2 linked regions of the Homo sapiens genome follow. The protein of the gene in region 1 purifies or fractionates together with the protein of each later gene. This does not show direct contact. Each region holds a gene or a part of one and is shown on either strand. Other genes may lie near its edges.

Region 1 (3,588 bases):
TGTAATAACAGGAGCTAATATTTGCCAGGGGGCAATATTACTCTTTTAAGTATTACCTCATTAAACAATCCCAGTGACCCATGGGGTGGATGTTATGATTCCCATTCTATAGGTGGAGGAGCAAGACCGAGACAGATGGAATGACTTGCCCAGTCACCAAGGCAGGAGGTGACAAAGCTGGCCTTGAACCTGAGCCTGCCTGGGGCCAGTGCCCAAGCCAGCTGTTTGACAGTCCTTCCCTGCACCCCACAACCCTACAAGCATCAAAGGTCACCCAGCAGCCTCTCCCAGCCAGCCCCAAGTGCATCTTCTCACCCTTCCAGGCTGGAGCTATCTGACCCTGAAACAGGCTGCTGAAGGCAGCCTTGGGAATCCTGACTTAGCTCCCGAAGAGGGTCGCATGGGTTCTCTTAGAAAAGGGATTCTTACCGGGAGGTTCCATGGACTTCCTATGACTGGATGCAAACTTGTGAATATGTGTGTGTGCATTCCAAAGGTGACAAACCACAGCTTGAGAAGTTTCTGATTCTGTGGAATGGGAGAACACGAGGGATGTCCCCAAAGTTTCTAGGTCTCCGCAATCTGCCTGTCCCTGCCTCTGTTGGACTTTAGCACTATCTTCCAGGAGGACTCTGAGAGAAGAAAAGCAATAGGCCAAGGCAAGTTAAAACTGTGCCGCCTGCCTCTAGCTGGACTGACTGCAAAGATGCATTTATTCCAGCTTGTGTCAGTATTGCCAGAAGATTCTCAGGCCCCGCCAGAGGGGAGGGATGAGCCACAAATCCTTCCAGGCACTGATTTATGTAGCATTCATGCGGAATTTATTATACAAAGAATTTTATTCAATTAAACTTGAAATGCATCTGGATTCTTAAAGGTTCAGTAGTGATCACTGGGACAGGGCGATCATAAAACTGAATGGGCTGTCGGAAGGTGTCGAGGCAGCAGCAAGGGTGACATTGCCACTGACGGGGGCTTCCGAACTGGGGACGTTTGTCATTGGGATGTGTTACAAGTTCGGGCTGTGGAAATTACTCGATGAAAAACGCACATTAACGATAGCCATGAAATATTAGTTAAGGGAAACTAGGTTGAGAAATGAGACAGCAGGATCTATCAGAGCCTGGCATTGTTCGCCACAGCCCAGGTAGTGATTAAAACGACTGTCAAGCGGCAGTGGGTGGGAGCTGAGGAGCACGGGGCTGTGAGTGACGAGGCCGCGTCCGGGGCTCACATCTTGGCACTGACTCCCCAGGACAACTTGGTTCCCCACCCAATGCCTCCTTCCAGGGCTGCTATGGGGTTCAAATGAGATAATGTCTGTGGAACACTTGGCTCAGGGCACTGCACATAGCAAGCCCTTCCACAGTGCGGGCTGGTGTCACTGTGACTGTGGGCTTCTCTCTGACACAAGAGCCAACTGCCAGCTTGTCTCTGGAAATGACACTAAACACCCCATTCCAGGGAGCCTGACCTGGAGGCGGAGGAGGCATTTTCATGGGTGCAAAATGTAAGGAAGTGCCCACAAACTCAGGGATCGAGTAGTATTTGTGTGCAATATTTTCCAAAATCAAATTATGAAAAAAATCTACGATAAGCAAGGGATCACGACTTTAAATAAAAACAGGCTGCTGTTTGTTTCAAAACCCCGTGTTCCCGTGCAATGGGACTGATTGTTTCTGAGAGTTGCCAGTGGTGTGCAAACACTGGGGCAGCGGGGGCTTCGCAGTCACATTTCCTGACTGTAGGGCTTTCATTAACTTTTCCCACCTGGTTCAAAATATGGGAGGACATTTGCTCAGTGTACAGAGGGGTACACATCTTTTCTTTTGCCTCGGGCTCTTGATAGAGCTTTTGAAAGGCACTGCAGAAGAGCAAATGTTTTAAACACCCCATCCTTCCAGCCCCCAAAGCAAGCTTTCTCCATTTTTCCCAGGTTGGTAGCACAGGAGAGAAACACCTGCTGAGTGGTGGCATCTGCCCTGCACCCAGGTGGTTTCTCAGAGAAGTGTTTGCTGGTGAACCGGGAGACAGATACAGAGGCGGGGGTCTGAGAACGCGACTGTTAACATCCAGGCTGTGACACCCGGTCCTGGAAGGACAGGACTTGGCAACAGGTGAACGGCCTTGTTTCAAAGATTGTCACTTTAGGATGTTGTATTTACTCAAAAAGCTTTCCTTATCCTTTGGAGGCTGTGCTTTCCCATGGCTAGGCATGCAGGGCTGCTGTGTTATTTTATATATATATATATATTCCAGGAAGATTTTGAGATTTTGAGGTGTAGACAGAATTGAGTGATTCGCTGCAAGCTCTTTGAACATACTCCCTGACCGAGCCTTAGTGATTGCGTTTTCAGGGTTTTTTTTTTTTTTTTTTTTTTTTTGTGACGGAGTCTCACTCTATCAGCCAGGCTGGAGTGTCGTGTCACGATCTTGGCTCACTGCAGCCTCTGCCTCGTAGGTTCAAGTGATTCTCCTGCCTCAGCCTCCTGAATAGCTGGGATTACAGGCACCCGCCACCATGCCCAGCTAATTTTTTTTTTTTTTTTTTTTTTTTAGCAGAAATGGGGTTTTACCATGTTGACCAGGCTGGTCTCAAACTCCTGACCTCAGGTGATCTGCCTGCCTCGGCCTCCCAAAGTCCGTTTTCAGCTCTGTTTTGCAAACACTGAGCACCGACTCCGTACCAGACCTGGTAGTGACGATGGGGGCAGGGAGGCACGGAACAAAGCCACCTCCTGGAAGGCATTCACACACTCCTGGTCATCTGCACCTCACCCACCCTGCCCAAGGCTCAAGAGGGCCATCACAGCCTGTCAGCAATGAAAGGACCCAGAAGACACAAGTGAATATACCTGGCCCTCCTGCAAACTTTGCAGGCCAGGTGGTAAGAATGAAGGCAAAAATATGCACGTGACTAAGAAGGTAATGTTTGCTGACTTGCCAGCAAGAAAGATGGCCGGAAAGACCAGCTGTCCCGAGCCTAGCGCGGTGGCCCATGCTAAGCAGCCACTCAGTCAATATGTGATGGCTGAATGGAGTTCGCCAGGCATTTCAGCCCTGAAACTGGACAAGAGCCTGCCCTTCCAAAGTCATTTCCTGCAATTAGCAGCCTGCAGTCTTTAGGTTCTTGGGGCTGCCTCTTCTGCCCTTCATAAATATTGCCTTTCCCAAGGACACTGCTGGCACTGGCAGTGTCGTTTCATAGCAGGAGGGAGCAGCAGTGACAACTGAAATAAATACAGCCGTGGCACCGATCTCAGAGGCATAAGCCAGCCAAGTGCAACATCGGAGAAATCAGTCTGGTGGATGTCAGCCTTGCTGGAAACTGACAACCTCATTTTCTCAAGCTGAAGATGCTGCACCGCAGACCCTTGACTCAGTCCAACCAGACAGGGAATGTTCACCTTCAAGTGGTAGTGTTGTTCTCATCAGCATCTCCATCCCTTTCAGAGGGGGTCCTCTAAGCTGCACCCCCATCACACACACTTCAATCTAAGCCAGGAGTTTCTGAGCCTCGCCTGTCAATCTGCAGCTATCCTTCCCCCACACTTTGGCGGTGATGGGTGGCTCAGAGGTGACTAAACT
Region 2 (7,298 bases), on another chromosome or scaffold:
CCCAAAACCTCAGTTTCCTCATGTAAAATGGGATAGCTTTCTAAATATTGAAAACTAAGATAAAGAATAAGCAATTAAGGGCTGGGCATGGCAGCTCACACCTGTAATCCCAGCACTTTGGGAGGCTGAGGCAGGTGGATCACCTGAGGTCCGGAATTTGAGACCAAACTGGCCAACATGGCAAAACCCCATCTCTACTATAAAAATATATAAAAACTAGCCGGGCATGGTGTCAGGCACCTGCAATCCCAGCTACTTGGGTAGCTGAGGCAGGAGAATTGCTTGAAGCCAGGAGGCAAAGGTTGCAGTGAGCCGAGATCGTGCCACTGCGCCCCAGCCAGTGGGCTCCAGCCAGTGGGCTCCAGCCTGGGTGACAAAGCGATACTCTGTCTCAAAAAAGAAAAAAAAAAAGCAATTAAGGTTAGCTACTATTATATGCACAAAAATCATTGCTTTCCTGTAAGCAGCACTATAAGCTTCTTGAGGGCTAGCCTAAGTCTTTCATTGTTTCTATAAACTCAGAGCCTAAATTCTCCAGTATCCAGTGGGCATATAGTAAATGTCTGTTAACTAAGAAGTGGCCTCTATTCTTTTTTTTTTTTAGGAAGATCTTAAATATTTATATGTATATGAACATATATGTACATATACATATGTCTTGCTACACTTTAAATTTAAAAATCTATTAATATGATTTTTGACAAACTAAAGAAAGAATACTATTATTTGGATACCAAGTTCTATGGTGAGTATTGTTTAAAAAACTATCATCTTATTCTTTATGCTATATTGTCTAGTTTCAGTTTGGTTTGGGTCTCTCAATTGATATTTCAGGTGATGATGCCAAACCATCCAAGACTTTCTTTGGAGATAGATATTATTTTGTTATAAAATATATTTTTAGGCTGGGCGCAGTGGCTCATGCCTGTAATCCCTGCACTTTGGGAGGCCGAGGTGGGCGGATCACGAGGTCAAGAGATCGAGACCATCCTGGCTAACATGGTGAAACCCCGTGTCTACTAAAATTACAATAAATAAATAAATAAATAAAAGATATTTTAGCACTTTGGGAGGCTGAGGTGGGTGGATCACCTGAGGTCGGGAGTTCGAGACCAGCCTGGCCAACATGGTGAAACCCTGTCTCTACTAAAAATACAAAAATTAGTTGGGCGTGGTGATGCACATCTGTAATCTCAGCTACTTGGGAGCCTGAGGCAGGAGAATCGCTTGAACCCAGGAGGCAGAGGTTGCAGTGAGCCAAGATCACGCCACTGGATGCCAGCCTGGGCGACAGATCAAGACTCTGTCTCAAAAAAATAAAAAATAAAAAAAGATATTTTAGGGCAAAATTCAGCCTTTATCTCTATTGTCTTAGTATCTCTTTGAGAGTATCTTTATTATTATTATACTTACAGCTCTAGGGTACATATGCACAACATGCAGGTTTGTTACATATGTATACATGTGCCATGTTGGTGTGCTGCACCCATTAACTCGTCACTTACATTAGGTATATCTCCTAATGCTATCCCTCCCCGCTCCCCCTGCCCCACAACAGGCCCCAGGGTGTTATGTTCCCCACCCCGTGACCAAGTGTTCTCATTGTTCAGTTCCCACCTATGAGTGAGAACATGCGGTGTTTGGTTTTCTGTCCTTGCGACAGTTTGCGCAGAATGATGGTTTCCAGATTCATCCATGTCCCTACAAAGGACAAGAACTCATCCTTTTTTATGGCTGCATAGTATTCCATGGTGTATATGTGAGAAATGGCCTCTATTCTTACATGGCCTCTACACTTACATGAGGAACTAGGACTACCTCACTCCCTACCATTAATCTCTACATAATCATGAAAAGTATTCATTAAGCATCTCTTTGTGGAAGCACTACACTGCACACTAATCAGAAGGCTAAAGAGACATGACCTGCTCTTCAGGGGTCTCTCGTCACTTTTCTCCATACCTGTTCATTGGTTGTGCGTCCCCTGGCCACCAGAACCACGTGAAATCCCGTGAGGCCAGCTACAGGGATGAAGAATAAGCCAGCCACACACATTACTGCCATTCTGATGCCAAACAATCAAGGAGAACAGAGCAACATGACCTCACTTTCCCCGGCCCCTACTGCAGCCATTTTCCCTTTAGCCCTCATTCCTCCCCCTTCCAATCCCACAATCTAAAAGGCCTTGAAGGATACGTGACAGCCGTGCGGACCCCTGAGAGTTCCTCTATGTGGTAGAGGACATAAAGGAGGCCAAAGCCAAACACACCCATAATGTGGGCTGTCAGGGAAAGGAGGAAAAGGAAAAAATAACGGTAGTTCCGGCGACCAATACAGTTATTCACCCAGGGGCAGTGATGATCAAATTCCTAGGGACAAAGAGAGACAGATGAGAGGCATCCCTGGACCATAGCATTAAATTACTTCTGTCAAGAAGAGAAACAAATGGCAGCTAAGTTTTGATCATGGTCACCAATTAGTTCAAAATTAAATCCAGTTTATTTTGCTCTATAAATCTGCAAGGGAGACCTTCCAGAGGTTGGTCAAAGGCCAAGGCCAACCAGGCGTAGTGGTGCACACTTGTAGTCCCAGCTACTTGGGGGGCTGGGGCTTGAGCCCAGGAGTTCAAGGCTGTAGTGAACTATGATGACTGCCTGTGAATAGCCACTGTACTGGGCAACATAGCAAGACCCCATCTCTTAAAAAAAAAAAAAAAAAAAAATTGGCCGGGCGCGGTGGCTCACGCCTGTAATCCCAGCACTTTGAGAGGCCGAGGCGGGTAGATCACGAGGTCAGGAGTTCAAGACCAGCCTGACCAACATGGTGAAACCCCATCTCTACTAAAAATACAAAAATTAGCCGGGCGTGGTAGCGCGTGCCTGTAATCCCAGCTACTCAGGAGGCTGAGGCAGGAGAATCGGTTGAACCCGGGAGGCGGAGGATGCAGTGAGCCGAGATTGCGCCATTGCACTCCAGCCTGGGCAACAGAGCGAGACTCCGTCTCGATAAATAAATAAATATATATATATATAAAAAAGACCAAGGCCGGCTCTCAATGTTTATCCTATGTGACCAAGGAACTCTAAAAGTGACGAATGTCAGAGGTTTTGCAGAAACATCAAGATTCATAAGAAAAGAGGATTAGAAGGAAGATTTGGCAGGTAACTGCTTATAGCTAAGTGAAAATGGAATGGAAAAAGGACAAGGGATGCAGAAGGACAGGCAGGAAAACAACTACAACAAATTGAAACACAACAGCATGATTTTCTGGAAGAGAAAATGCAAAGCCAGGATAAATAACCAAAACTGAGCCAATAGATAGAAGGCTAGAACTATAAATCTTGGTGTCAAGAAAGCCTACACCCTGCTAGTGCAATGGCTCATGCCTGTAATCCCAGCACTCAGCACTCTGGGAGGCCAGGGCATGAGGATCACTTGAAGCCAGGAATTTGAGATAGTCCAAGCAACACAGTGAGACCTCATCACTACAAAAAGTAAAAATAAATAAAAAAGAAAGCCTATGCCCATATTGAGTTAAAGCTTCCCTCCTGCAATAATATTTATGCTCTGCCTCTCATGCCATGTCATTATTAACACCATTTGACAGAGCTGGACCATGTGGCCAACGTAGTTAGACAGGACTATACCACATCCAAAGCTAAGAATCTATTATATGGTTAGGATGAAGACAATGAAGGTTAAGCATGAAGTCTTACCCCACCCAGGGTGCTTACCTCCACACAGTTGTCACAGACACTGCAGTGGGAACATCGAGGGGGACGGTAAAAGCGGCAGGTGGCACACCATTTCATGCGCACCTGGATGCCCTTTATCTCCACTGTTTTGTAAAGGGGAGCTCGGAAATCATCTTCCTTGTCCTCATCCTCCTCAGCTGTAGAGAGGAAAAGTCAATTAAAAACAACTATGCCAGAACTGTAGTAAGTGCTAGGGATTCAATGATGTTTAAAATATAGCTTCTGCCTTTGAGGAATTCACAGTCTAATGAGTGAGACTAGGAACTAGGAACTATAAGACTGTGAGGTCAGGTCTTTATACAACACTATGGGAACATGGATGAGGGAGCAATTTATTCTGCATTGGGAAGTGAGGTTCGAGATAAAATGACTCAAGAGGTAGCTCTTGTATGCATCTGCTGGTGTTATTTGGTTTAAGTATATGAATATATTTTAAAGAAATAGTTTACATATCAAAGCACATACATAATGAGTTTGCATAAGAGTTCAGTATCTACATTTATATGAGTGAACTATAGCAATCCAAGAGAGGAACTAACATCAACCTTTTTTTCCAGGCACGAATCCTTTGCCCAGCCAACCATGGTGGCTCACGCCTGTAATCCCAACACTTTGGGAGGCCGAGAAGGGCGGATTGCCTGAGCTCAGGAGTTCAAAACCAGCACGGCCAACATGGTGAAACCTCGTCTCTACTAAAAACACAAAAATTAGCCTGGTGTGGTGGCATGCACCTGTAGTCCCAGCTACTCAGGAGGCTAAGGCAAGAGAATCGCTTGAACCCGGGAAGTGGAGGTTGCAGTGAGCTGAGATCACGCCACTGCACTCAAGCCTGGGCAACACAGCAAGACTTCATCTTCATCTTAAAAAAAAAAAAAAAAAAAAAAAAAACTTTCCCAAAATGTCTTCCCCTACTCTATGAATTTTCTCTACATATACGTATTTCAGTATTATTTGTTGCACAAGCATAAATGCCCTTTCTCTCAATTTTCAGCTATCAGAAACCCACCATCCCATTTCAAAACTTAAAAGACATTATTTGCCTTCTCATATACAGTTAGCAATTTTTTTTTTCTTGAGACGGAGTCTTGCTCTGTTACCCAAGCTGGAGTGCAAGGGCGTGATCTTGGCTCACTGCAACCTCCACCTGCCGGGTTCAAGTGATACTTCTGTCTCAGCCTCCCAAACAGCTGGGATTACAGGCGCACGCCACTTCGGCAGCTAATTTTTTGTATTTTTAATAGAGACGGGGTTTTACCGTGTTCCCCAGGCTGGTCTCAAACTCCTGAGCTCAGGCAATCCACCTGCCTCAGCTTCCCAAAGTATTAAGATTACAAGCATGGGCCACCGCACCCAGAGCAATTTTTATTATTAACCTAGAAAAAAAAAATGTGGGAAGGAAAAATTAAATAGATGATAGTGTGGAATTAAAAATTAAGTTTTCAAATTTTACTGATTTCTTTACATAGCATTTTTTCATATTTACATCACAAGAAATGCTAGGTAAAGAACTGTACAGCTGGGTACGGTGGCTCATGCCTGTAATCCCAGCACTTTGGGAGGCCAAGGAGGGCAGATGACTTGAGGCCAGGAGTTCAAGACCAGCCTGGCCAAAATGGCGAAACCCCATCTCTACAAAAAATATAAAAATTAACCAGGGGTGGTGGCACACGCCTGTAATCCCAGCTACTTGGGAGGCTGAGGCAGGAGAATGGCTTGAATCTGGGAGGCAGAGGTTGCAGTAAGCCAAGATCATGCCACTGCACTCCAGCCTTGGTGACAGAGTAAGACACTGTCTGGAAAAAAAAAAAAAACACACACACACACAAATATATACTGCAGATACATGGTATACATAAATATACACATATATTTTTTAAGTCTTCAAAATATTGCAAGGATATATACCACAATATAACAGTAGTTAGCTCTGGTCTGTGAAATTATAGGTAATGTTTTGCCTTTTTTGTACTTCGTACATAATGAATGTGCACTACTTATTGAAATCTTTAAATAAAAGATTTTTTCTTTTGGTCAGGCACAGTGGCTCATGCCTGTAATCCCAGCACTCTGGGAGGGTGAGGCAGGTGGATCATTTGAGGTCAGGAGTTCCAGAGTAGCTTGGCCAACATGGTGAGACCCCATCTCTACTAAAAATACAAAAATTAGCCAGGCACGGTGGCACGCTCCTGTAATTCCAGCGACTCGGGAGGCTGAGGTAGAATAATTGCTTGAACCCGAAAGGCAGAGTTTGCAGTGAGCCGAGATGGAGCCACTGCACTCCAGCCTGGGCAACAGAGAGTGAGACTCTGTCTCAAAAAAAAAAAGATTTTTTTCTTTTAAAGGGAAAAAATTCAAATGCTATTTTTCTTTTAAGAGAGTTTTGCTCTATCACCCAGGCTGGAGTGCTGTGCTGCGACCACAGCTCACTGCAGCCCTGAACTCCTGGGCTCAACTGATCCTCCAACCTCAGCCTCCCAAGTAGCTGGAACCGCAGGTGGGCACCAGCATGCCCAGTTGCAATGCTCCTTATTTTGAAATGTCTGATCCTTCTACATCATCATCTACCAGAAGTGATCTCTTTGATTACTCTTACACAATGTATTTGTTTTTTGTTTGTTTGTTTTGAGATGTAGTCTCACACTGTCGCTGGAGTGCAGTGGCGCAATCTCAGCTCACAGTAACCTCCACCTCCCGGGTTCAAGCGATTCTCCTGCCTCAGCCTCCCGAGTAGCTGGGATTACAGGCATGCGCCACCACGCCCGGCTAATTTTGTATTTTTAGTAGAGACAGGGTTTCTCCATGTTGGTCAGGCTTGTCTCGAACTCCCAACCTCAGGTGATCCACTCACCTGGGCCACCCAAAGAGTTGGGATTACAGGCGTGAGTCACGGCACCCGGCCCACGGTGTATTTGTTTATAGAGGTGTCTTCCTATCTTCCTTTCTAGTCTGAGCTATTTGAAAGGAATGACCTTTTTATTTTTTATTTACTTTTCTTCAGATGGAGTTTTGCTCTTATCGCCCAGGCTAGAGTGCAATGGGGCAATCTCGGCTCATCACAACCTCCACCTCCCAGGTTCAAGCAATTCTCCTGTCTCAGCCTTCCAAGGAGCTGGGGTTACAGGCACGTGCACTACCATGCCTGGCTAATTTTTATATTTTTAGTAGAGACGGGGTTTCGCCATGTTGGCCAGGCTGGTCTCGAACTCCTGACCTCAAGTGATCCGCCCTGGCCTCCCAAAGTGCTGGGATTACAGGCGTAAGCCACCACGCCCGGCCAGCAATGACCTTCTTAAAAACCCCAAATGACCATCATAGTGCCTTCCATAATACATCAATAAATATTTGATGAATGAACATTAAAGGCTCATTAAAATAGCCTTTCTTGGCTTTAGGGACACAAAGTTCTTTTCCCTCACCCAATCTTTGAAGGGAAGTCACAAACAAAGCACAATGATGTAGGCTTTGGGAGCACAATGAAGTTCTTTTTTTCTTTCTTTTTGAGACGGAGTCTTGCTGTTGCCCAGGCTGGAGTGCAATGGCACA

What was found.
Region 2: the proteins of MMAB (region 1) and ZDHHC5 purify together in Homo sapiens (co-immunoprecipitation; 2 studies listed by BioGRID and IntAct, with this or other methods). This does not show direct contact.

What each region holds. Positions count from the first base shown.
Region 1 is NC_000012.12:109,552,917-109,556,504, forward strand, and holds the end of MMAB (corrinoid adenosyltransferase MMAB precursor), read right to left. Parts: 3' UTR 799-3,588; downstream 1-798. UniProt on the Homo sapiens protein: Converts cob(I)alamin to adenosylcobalamin (adenosylcob(III)alamin), a coenzyme for methylmalonyl-CoA mutase, therefore participates in the final step of the vitamin B12 conversion.
Region 2 is NC_000011.10:57,685,102-57,692,399, reverse strand, and holds part of ZDHHC5 (palmitoyltransferase ZDHHC5), read right to left. Parts: intron 3,893-7,298; coding exon 3,735-3,892; intron 2,370-3,734; coding exon 2,197-2,369; intron 2,066-2,196; coding exon 1,963-2,065; intron 1-1,962. UniProt on the Homo sapiens protein: Palmitoyltransferase that catalyzes the addition of palmitate onto various protein substrates such as CTNND2, CD36, GSDMD, NLRP3, NOD1, NOD2, STAT3 and S1PR1 thus plays a role in various biological processes including cell adhesion, inflammation, fatty acid uptake, bacterial sensing or cardiac functions.